Regions from separate parts of the Homo sapiens genome. Here region 1 is linked to region 2. The links come from fine-mapping of genetic effects on gene expression. A gene starts in region 2. The other region holds a variant in brackets. All regions are shown on one strand. Distances are between the middles of the regions. Region 1 overlaps KDM2A (lysine demethylase 2A). Region 2 holds the start of SSH3 (slingshot protein phosphatase 3).

What was found. PIP is the estimated chance that this variant, and not a neighbour inherited with it, causes the effect. A credible set is the group of variants that fine-mapping cannot tell apart.
Region 1: its variant is the best candidate, but not a certain one, in a credible set for the expression of SSH3 in monocytes (Quach 2016, PIP 0.55).

Annotation. Positions count from the first base shown.
Region 1 is chr11:67,211,859-67,216,858 of GRCh38, reverse strand. KDM2A (lysine demethylase 2A) reads right to left here. Exons shown (of 21, transcript NM_012308.3): 7 at 1,413-1,519; 8 at 910-1,003. Among named protein-coding and RNA genes, the nearest start is that of GRK2, 52 kb to the left of the region's middle. The variant T/AAAAAAAAT (reference allele first, on the strand shown) is at 2,652.
Region 2 is chr11:67,300,907-67,306,424 of GRCh38, reverse strand. SSH3 (slingshot protein phosphatase 3) reads right to left here and starts at 2,895. Exons shown (of 14, transcript NM_017857.4): 1 at 2,734-2,895; 2 at 2,270-2,307; 3 at 1,418-1,652. The coding sequence starts at 2,799. ANKRD13D (ankyrin repeat domain 13D) reads right to left here. Exons shown (of 15, transcript NM_207354.3): 11 at 5,278-5,435; 12 at 5,027-5,143; 13 at 4,774-4,937; 14 at 4,602-4,693; 15 at 3,941-4,306. The coding sequence ends at 4,093. RefSeq lists enhancers at 2,708-3,227, 3,228-3,745.

The DNA of each region.
Region 1 (5,000 bases), 89 kb after region 2:
AACCTCCACCTTGTGGGTTCAAGCGATTCTCCTGCCTCAGCCTCCCGAGTAGCTGGGATTATAGGCATGTACCACCACACCCAGCTAATTTTGTATTTTTAGTAGAGATGCACTTTCTCCATGTTGGTCAGGCTGGTCTTGAACTCCTGACCTCAGCTGATCCGCCCGCCTTGGCCTCCCAAAGTGCTGGGATTACAGGCGTGAGCCACCATGCCTGGCCAAGACCTCATGTTTTAAACAAGGCATTATCTATTCTCATTCTAGTTCCTACTTTTCTCTTACAAATGCATTCACTGCAAGTTAGAGAAAAAAGAGTAACAAGAGTATAATACTATAAACCTCGGGTATTAATTCTAGATTTCCATTCTCATATAGCATTCAGAAGCATTTTCACAAGCTGGAATATAACTGAATGAATAAAGATAATCCTTCAAAACCTGTTTACATCCTCAAAAAGGACTTAAAGGCTTCCTTTGGCCATATTTCAGACCAATGGCTACATAGAGGGAAAGTTGGTTTAGATCTTAATTTGCTGATTTCACAGTGAATCTATCCAAAATTCGTGTTCCCTTCCACTATTTATTATACTTCCAAGTACAGAAATTATCTTGTCCTTCTAAAATCACTTCTTTGGCTTCATTTGGAGAACTCTGATTCAGGAATCTAGAAACAGGACTATTGAGATTTACTAAGTGCTGTGCCAATGGTGTAATGACAGTGAACTAGATGAATACTAATTTCTACTGAACACTAGCCAAGAAGGTGAACTTAATCTATAATTCTTTCCAGATACGAATGGGGACAATTCCCTAACAGATTCATTTCCAGGGTATATTAAGTATACATGAACTGAAGCAAAGTCATACAACCAACTTCAGATTCCAACCCCTATCACAACTATGACCATACCTTTCCCCCTTGATGGATGTGATACCAAACAGAGGTACCACCAAAGTCCACATGGAAGTCAGTATAGCAGCCTCGAACACTCATTAGACAGTACCTGACCCAAAAAAAGCAGCAGCATTAGTGTACTGATGGAAAAAAGTACATCTGCCCCACCAAAATGCCATACTCTCCTCTTATATACTCCCTTTATCTTCCACTTAATCTTAAGTTCCAGAAGGAGAAAAAGCAATGCATTTTCAAGTCATCACATTATCAGAAAAAGGTTTTTTTTTTTTCTACCGTATTGACTAAAATGTAAGTTTTTTTTCCTTTAACTGTGTGGTTGTGTGCTATGGTATGCTCACATACACTCTTCCTTGTGGAACTGTAAAGTCTCATCTTTAAATAATTCATCTTTTTAATCATTCAAGACACAGAGCAAAGCTCGTAAGGGAGAAGCCAATCCTTGCTATTGCTTTGGTCTCCCACAGCACACGGAGGAAGATGCAGGGCGCATCACTTACTTCTGCACTTTAGGGTACTGCATCTCCAAGATGGCATTTGTTGATTCAGTCTGGCTTTCCTTCAAGTGCCTTGGCCACATGTTGTCTACCCAGTCAATGAAATCCACCTTTAAATAGAAGGAGGAAACACTTGGGCTCCAAGGGAAAGGTTGGGGTCAAAGATAATTTTAAAGTCAAGAAAAGCAGAATTTCTTAAAATACATAACAAAAAACTATAATTTAATTATAAGCAAATTAAAAAAATCTGTTGGCGAATCTTAGGATTACTAGGCAACCATCCTAGAAATAATTGTTATATGAGAATAAAGATTAATCATTCCATCAAATGATAATAGTAAAGACAGCACTAGTCAAAATGGAATCATTAATTATGCAATAGTGTATAACTATGAACTCTCTTCTATGTCAATACTTATATAATTTGTTTTATTTTTTAATCCAATAAAAGGTGTTGTCTGGAAGGTATCTATAAACTCAGCAAAATATATACCATTGTTAGAACAGTTAAGATGCCAAAAGTTAGGCCAAAAAAAAGAAAAAAATCCAGTATAGATTTATAGCCTTGCATTGACAATGTGCTATAGAAACTACCAGCTTAGGAATAAGAAGCTCCAGGTCTATCATGTCTTTTCAAGACTATATAAGGCCCTCAAACTCATCTATAAAACTAAGATAGACCAGGCACAGTGGCTCACACCTGCAATCCCAGAGCTTTGGAAGGCCAAGGTGGGAAGATCACTTGAACCCAGGAGTTTAAGACCAGCCTGGGCAACACAGTGAGAACCCATCTCTTCAAAATAAAAAAATAGTTGGGATCAGTGGCTCACACCTGTAATCCCCAACACTTTGGGAGGCCAAGGCAGGCGGATCACCTGAGGTCGGAAGTTCAAGACCAGCCTGACCAACATGGAGAAATCCCGTCTCTACTAAAAATACAAAATTAGGCCCAGTGCAGTGGCTCACGCCTGTAATCCCAGCACTTTGGGAGGCCGAGGCAGGTGGATCACGAGGTCAGGAGATCGAGACCATCTTGGCTAACATGGTGAAACCCCATCTCTACTAAAAATACAAAAAATTAGCCAGGCGTGGTGGCGGGCGCCCGTAGTCCCAGCTACTCGGGAGGCTGAGGCAGGAGAATGGCATGAACCCGGGAGGCGGAGCTTGCAGTGAGCCGAGATTGCGCCACTGCACTCCAGCCTGGGTAACAGAGCAAGACTCCGTCTCAAAAAAAAAAAAAAA[T/AAAAAAAAT]TAGCTGCGCATGGTGGCGCATGCCTGTAATCCCAGCTACTTGGGAGGCTGAGGCAGGAGAATCGCTTGAACCCAGGAGGTGGAGGTTCTGGTGAGCCGAGATGGTGCCACTGCACTCCAGCCTGGGAAACAAGAGCGAAACGCCGTCTCAAAAAATAAATAAAATAAAATAAAAAAAACAGCCAGGCGTTGTGGCATGTGCCTATAGTCCTAGCTACTTGTGAGGCTAAGATGGGAGGTTTGCTTAAACCCAGGAGGTTGAGGCTGCAGTAAGCTACGATCACCACTGCACTCCAGCTTGGGCAACAGGGCAAGACTGTCTCAATAAAAAACCCAAAAACACAAAAAAACTAAGATAACTACTTCAAAGATACGTTGTAAGGATTAAATGTAAACACTTTTAAAATCTGAAATAATGTGAGAATACAGAAATCTTTTTTTTTTTTTTTTTTGAGACGGTCTGCTCTGTCACCCAGGCTATAATGTTGTGGTGCGATCTCAGCTCACTGCAACCTCCGCCTCCCAGGTTCAAGCAATTCTCCTGCCTCAGCCTCTTGAGTAGCTGGGATTACAGGCACCCGCCACCGCACCTAACTAATTTTTGTATTTTTTAGTAGAGACAGGGTTTCACCATCTTGGCCAGGCTGGTCTCGAACTTCTGATCTCAGGCAATCCACCAGCCTCAGCCCCACAAAGTGCTGGGATTACAGCATGAGCTACCATGCCCGGCCAGGAATCTTTTAAATAATACTGGCTGAAAAAAAAGAGAAGTGAAAGCAATACGCAACATTTTACACTAAATTATAACATTTCCTGTGCCTTCAAGTGTCTACACTCAACCAATGAACTCCAGGTAGGTAAAACTCGAGAGCCAAACCACCATGAATTCAGCACAGTGCTGATGTGGTAAATATCTAACTTATGGTTATAAAAAACATGTATCTGGTAAGCTTTGTAACAACATCTACGTATTTGATCACTTACTTCCCTTATAATGTGAATGGAGACAAATGCATAAAGTTGTGCATGATATGAAGCAGTTGTCTAGAGGATACCCAGATGTTAACTGTGGGAGAGTGTTTAGAAAGCATCACCACTGACATGGAAGAAACAAACAAGATGAGGAGCAACGGTTAAGGTTAACCTGCTGTTCCATTTCAAAGAATTTCTGCTCAGGGAGCCAACAATTTTAACCAAGCATCCGCCGGTCCCAGAACATTGAATAAGCCCTGGATGCCTTTCTTTCCTTCAAATAAAATTTACTGTTTCTTAATGTAGTAGCCACCATCTCCCATCCCCGTGTGTTGTCCATGGGAATGCCTTTAACAGAATAATGAATAAAGTACTTGCTTAATACGCTGTAAGCTCCCATGTCTGAATAGGGAGAGGAACGGTTCAGAACATATGAGTATTTTTTTTTTTTTTACCACGCATTCATTCACAGAAAGCAGAATTTCTTAATTGCAGCAAGAAAGTCAGTCATTTTTGCCTGCCTTTCTTTGGTATTATTAGGTATCTTCAGACTACAGAGAGAATTTGTGGTAACATGTTCGTGCTTTTCTTCTTAGGTTAATCTTTAGCCTTGGGATAGATCCTTTGCTAAATACTCTGATCCCAGTTATAATCTGTTCTGCAACAAAACTAGGGCCAAACTGGTAAGAAGTCCAATATCATGAACCTAGTCTATTCATAAACAACTCATAGCCTTCCATGAACTTATTTCCCCATCACCAAACAAATGTGTATTATTTGTGCCATTTTAAAATCTACCTCTCAGTTATTGCTGGAATGGCAGCACTAAATAATCTCTTCTCACCATAGAACTCTACTTTATGCTAGCTCCTATAACAGGCATGTAAAAGTTGCCCTTCTTACCTCCCGGAACCTACTTTTACAAATGCTATTCCTTCTGCCCGTAATTCTGGTCTCCCTCTCCTTGCTTCATTATTTCTTTTATGTCAACATTAGGCACCACTTCCTCCAAAGAGCTTCCCCTAATTCTCCTATAGTTTCTAAATTAGGTCATCCTTCCAAAATGCTTCCACAATATCCTGCTTTATTCAATTTTTTTAATTTTAAAAGACTGGGTCTTGCCACATTGCCTAGGCTGCCTCAAACTCCTGGGCTCAAGCAATTCTCCCACCACAGCCTCCCAGGTAGCTGGGACTAAAGGCATGTGCTACTTTGCCTGGCTGTTTATTCACTTTTGAAGCACTGCTCATACTATAGTTTATATAAATGCATATTTTCTTGTCTTTCTTTGAGTCTCTAACAAGAATGATATCATTTTCCACTGTATCTCTAGTACCTAGACAGTGCTTAGCATGTGGTAGGCATCTGATAAATGAA
Region 2 (5,518 bases):
CTTCCCTATGTTTCTTGGGCTGGTCTTGAACTCCTGGACTCAGGCAATCCTCCCTTCTCAGCCTCCCAAAGTGCTGGGATTACAGGCGTGAGCCACTGTGCCCAGCAAGAAGGAGGTTTTTTCTTTTTTTTTTTTTGCAATGGAGTCTTGCTCTGTCACCCAGGCTGGAGTGCAGTGGCGCAATCTCAGCTCACTACAAACTCCATCTCCCGGGTTCACGCCATTCTCCTGCCTCAGCCTCCCGAGTAGCTGGGACTACAGGCACCCGCCACCACGCCTGGCTAATTTTTTGTGTTTTTAGTAGACACGGGGTTTCACCGTGTTAGCCAGGATGGTCTCGATCTCCTGACCTCGTGATCTGCCCGCCTCGGCCTCCCAAAGTGCTGGGATTACAGGCATGAGCCACCGCGCCCGGCCAGTTTTTTTTTGTTGTTTTTTTTTTACCCTGTCACTTGCAAATGCTATCATTTCATTTGAGAAATGTTTATCACCAAAGAAATATTAAGGACAAAATCTCACGATAGGGGATGATACTTCTGTTGTAAATTCAGTTTTACCAAAGATTCACTGCATCTTGTTTGCCACGTCTTGCTGAGGACGGCGAGCTGTCTCCACAAGTATTTGAGCATGAGCGCTCCAGCTCCACCTGGACTCCCTTCCTCCGTGGGGCTGGAGTCCTCCTCCCCTCTGCCTGGGTCCCTCTAGCACACCCTCCCCCAGTGTGTGTCCAGCAAGCCTGCCTTGTGCACTGGTCCATTTAGGGACAGCTCACATCATCAGGAAAGTCTTCTACTGGTTGAGGAGAAACATGCCTCTGGAATTCCCACCCCTTGGACCTAATTTGGCCCTATTGGCTCACACAGGACAAACCTCCCCTGTTCTTTCCCTTCCAGAGACCTGCAGCCATGACCTCGCCCTGTCAAAATATCTCTGCCCAGGCCGGGCGCGGTGGCTCACGCCTGTAATCCCAGCACTTAGGGAGGCCGAGGCAGGCGGATCACGAGGTCAGGAGATTGAGACCACCCTGGCTAACACGGTGAAACCGCATCTCTACTAAAAATACAAAAAAAATTAGCCAGGCATAGTGGCGGGTGCCTGTAGTCCCAGCTCCTCGGGAGGCTGAGGCAGGAGAATGGTGTGAACCCGGGAGGTGGAACTTGCAGTGAGCCGAGATCACGCCACTGCACTCCAGCCTGGGCAACAGAGCGAGACTCCATCTCAAAAAAAAAACAAACAAAAAACAAAACATCTCTGCCTGAAACAGCAGGGTCACTGGGATATGGGTAACCCCAACACTCCCCAGGCTGCCCCCTGCCCTCACACCATTGCTCCCCAAGCAGACACATACACAGGGCTCCATTCTGCCCTCAGGCGTGTCTCTTCCCCCCACCCCCCGGAGCTCCACATGGGCCCTCACCAGGCGGATGTCATCCTGCGGCCTCAGCAGCTGTACCATGAGGTGCAGGTGCTGCCTCTGCTCCTCCTGCTTCTGGGGACTCTGGGATCCTTGCCCGAAGTCTGTCTGGTCCCCGTGGAGCTCCTCCTCACTCGGGGCCTTCTCTGTTGGCTCAGAACTGGCCTCTGCTGCATCATCATTGTCCCCTCCATCCTGCAGTCCCAGGACAGCCCCACGGAGCACCGCAAAGCTCTGCCTGGCAGGGCAGTGGGCAACTGTCATGGCTCCTCATTCCCCTTAGGGTAGGGGCTCTCAAAGTCTAGCATGCATCACATTCACCTGCAGCCCTTGTCTACACGGATTCATGGGCCCCCACGCGGTCGATAGGTCTAGAGTGGAGGCCTGAGCATCTGCATTTCTAACCCCTCGGCCCCTTGGCAATATTGCTGAGAACCAGTCTTGGGGGCTTCCAAGCTCTCAGCCCCTCTACTCTAGCTCATCTGTGGGGAGAGGGGGCTGCTCCTTTTCCCCTCCCACCTGTTTAACTCAAGTGCTGCTGGGAACATGGTCGGGGACCCAGGAGTCCTCAGGCCCATCATGCCCTCCTGCCGTTCGGCCCGTGGCCACCACCTGAGCCAAAGCCCAGGGCAGTGGATGAGGAAGCCCCAGCTGACCAGGGGGAGGGTGAAGGCAAAGGCCGCCCTACCGCGAGCCCACCAGCCGGCCCCACCGGGAACGCTGCCCCACAAATTTGGCAGTGGGCTTCGCTGCGCGTCCTCCGGGGAGCTTTCTGTCCCTGCAGCTGGAGCCCAGGACGGCCGTGGCCAGGCCCGGGGCAGACGGAAGTGTCTGCGTGGGGGAGGTGGCGCTCACCTTCGCTGGAGTCGACTCCTTCGCTGGACCGCCTGGTCCTGCGGAGAGAGCAGCCCCAGGGCAGGGTGAGGGCGGGGAGGGCTGTCCCCTCCCCTCTCTCAGGAATTCTAGAGTTGGGGGAGGCCAGAAAAGGCGCCAGATGCCAATCGTCTTCCCACCCCAGTCCACGCCCCACCGGGAGGCCCCGTGGAGCCCCGGCCCAAGGCCAGGTCGGCTGGGTGGGCGCCGAGTGTGGCGGGGGGCGCGCTCAGATCGGGGCCTCCGCAGCCCGGGCGGCGCGCAGGGCTCTGGATTGTGCCCCGGCGCCAGTACCAGAGACCCTCGAGGCCCCCAGCGCCCTCCAGCCCGAGCCCCGGGGCCCCCTCCTCATGTCCCCGTTCGAGAGGAGCCCGCTGGCGGGCAGGACGCGCTCCCAAGCCGGGGCAGCAACTGCGTGGGCGGCACCACGGCCGGACCACACTCACCCAGGGCCCCACGGGCGTGGAGGCGCCGCTGCCCGGGGGCGAACGGCTCACTGTGACCAGGGCCATGGAGCCAGGCCGCGAGCACCTGGGCTGGCACCGGGCACGGCCCCTTCCCTCAACCCCGCGGACAGTCCTGGACCCGCAGGACCAGGAAGGACGGACGGCGCCACCCGGGCCTGGCACCTCCTCGGGGGCGGCCCTTAAAGGGCCAGACACTCGCCCAGCCGGGCCCGCGGAGCTTCTCAGGGCGGCCGGGCCCCGCCCCTCCGGTCTCCGCTGTTCGGCCCGCCCAGCCCCTGGGCACAGGTCAGGGGCGAGGCCGGGGGCGGGCGCAGGTGCGGAGCCCGGAGACCCGGAGGGCAAGAGCTGAAGGCCGGGAGTTTGGTCCCCCTCCCAGGAAGCGCCCGGCCCGGGCCGGCCCAGCGGGAGCACCTGAGCTGTTCTGGGCCTCCAGCGTCCTGTGCCCTGCAGAGGCGGGTCCTAGGGAGGCAGAGCTGAGGTGGGGAGGTGGGGGACAGGTCTAGAGAGGATCAGGCACGGCGCGCCCTCGGCCAAGGGCCCCCACCCCAAACATTTCTCCCTGCTGGTCGGCCTTCTCGTTCCCACTCCGCAGGAACCACTGGAAGACAGGCTTCCGGGGAAAACGGCCTGGGGTTTACAAATAACCCAGGAAGCCCATGAGGGGCTCTCAGGTCCACCTCGGAGGCGAGCAGGGCAGGGCTTCCAGCTACGCAGGCGGAAGTGACTTGCGCAAACCCACCCGCAGAGAACAAGCCGCAGTCAGGGCCAGGGCCTGGGCTTGGCTGCAGGGGTCGGCGTCGGGGCTCTTCCCAGCTGGAGGTGAATGGTGCCTGGGGACCCAGGCTTTTCCTCCCCAGCAGGCACGTGGGCCGGTTTCCAGAAGACTAGGCTGGGTGGCAGGACGAACCGGGTCCCCAGCAGGTGGGACAGGGCACAGGGGATCTGACTTTCACAGGACGCCTGCTTGGTAAGGACACGTGACTCTCGCCAGCTCCTTTCAGCCCTGAGGGGCGGAGGGTGGGGGGTGGTCTCCTCATTTTACAACTGAAGAAACTGAGGCTCAGATAGGCTAAGGGGACCATGACCAGGATTCAAGCCCAGGTCTGAGGCCGCCATCCACAGTGCCTCTCCACAGCGCCCCACCTTCAGGGTCCCCACCGCTCCAGCCCAGTGAGCAGAGCAGCCCTGCTGCGACAGTCTCTTTATTTCCATCTCAGTCTCCCCTGCCTGCTCATTCCTGGGGCTCCAGGCCCCAAGCTCAGCAGCAGAGAGTTTATAAATAAATAAATTACAAAAGCGGGCAGGGAGTGGCCTGGCCAGCCCTCCCGGGGCTATGGCTCAGTGCTCAGTGAGTGACAGCTGCAGGATCCGCTGTAAGTCCTCCTCCTCCTGCTGCCCGCGCCGCTCCCGCTCCTCCTGCTCCCGTGAAGACAACTCCAGGGCCAGGCGCAGCTGCTCTTCAAAGCTGGGTGGACCGGGGGCTGGGGGTGTCCTGGGAGGGGATCCTGGGCCCCTGGGCTCTGTGGACAGCTGCAGGCTTTCCTGGAGGGCCCTTCCAGGCAGGGCAGGGGAGGGAAGAACAGGCCAGTGAGCGCCAAGGCTGGGGCAGAAGCCGAGGGGCTGGGGACCGGCTTTGGAGGACAAAGGCAAAGACAGGGTGGCAAGCAGAGGAGACAAGGCAGGGCCCTGCTTCCCCACCCCTCACACCACCTTTGGTGGCAGATAGCGCTGCTGACAGAGGGTGGCCTTGCAGAGGGCCTGGGGTCCTAGCACCTTCCTGCTATCCCCCTCCCCGCCAAGCCAGGGCTGGGGGGACAGGGACCCAGCCAGCCCCATGAGGGGCTCACCGCTCCAGCTGAAGCTGTTCCTCATAAACCGTGGCCTGGGGAGGAGGGCGGGCACCGGGCCGGGTGTTGGTCAGGGCTTCCCAGACGGTCACCTGCAGCCACCAGAGCCCACAGCTGTCACTTCTGCCGTGTGGCTGCAGAGGCCAGAGCCCACCCCCTGGGCAAGTCCCACCTGCTCCGCCTCAGTGCCCGCTTCAAGCAGGCTCTGCTGGATGGCGAACTGCAGGAGGTCATCGTCCTCGTCCCGGAGGGGCTCGTTGCGCTCCATGCCCAGCACGCTGTACCCGTTGGGCACTTCAAACACGGTGGGGTCCACCTCGCACGGGAAAGGGTTCCCTAGGCAGGTGGCAGAGGGGCCACGCTCAACCCGCGGGGCTTGGTGACCAGAAAGCTGTGCAGGCTCCCTCTTCCTCCCGTTGGGGTACCTGATGCGGCAACAGCAGAGCTGGGGGCCGGCACCCACACGGAGCTCAGGGGCTCATCACAGCCACACAGGTTGCTGAAGGTGATGCGGGCATTGAGCACGTGGAAAAGGGGAATCTCTGTGAGAAGACAGCCACGCCTGAGCCCTGGCGGAGAGCCACCTGTGCCTCCGGCCCCTGCAGCTCTCCAGGGACTGCGCTGAGGGAGGGTGCCATGCCTGAGGTCCTCCCGCTGCCTGTGCCCAGCCTCTCACCAATTTTGACGGGGAAGCCAGGTGGAAGGCGCAGAGTGATGAAGTCGCGCAGCTTGGCAAAGTGAGCGTTGCTGATGGCCATTAGGTCGATGATGGGGGTCACCTGGTCACCCAGGGAGAGCGGGTGCTCTTCACTCAGCCACAGTGTTGCCTTGAACCTGCCCAGCCGACCACAGGACATGGGTGAGGCACGGCTGGTGGCCCTTCCATTGAGGACTGCCCTCTGGTTCGTGGGCAGCTG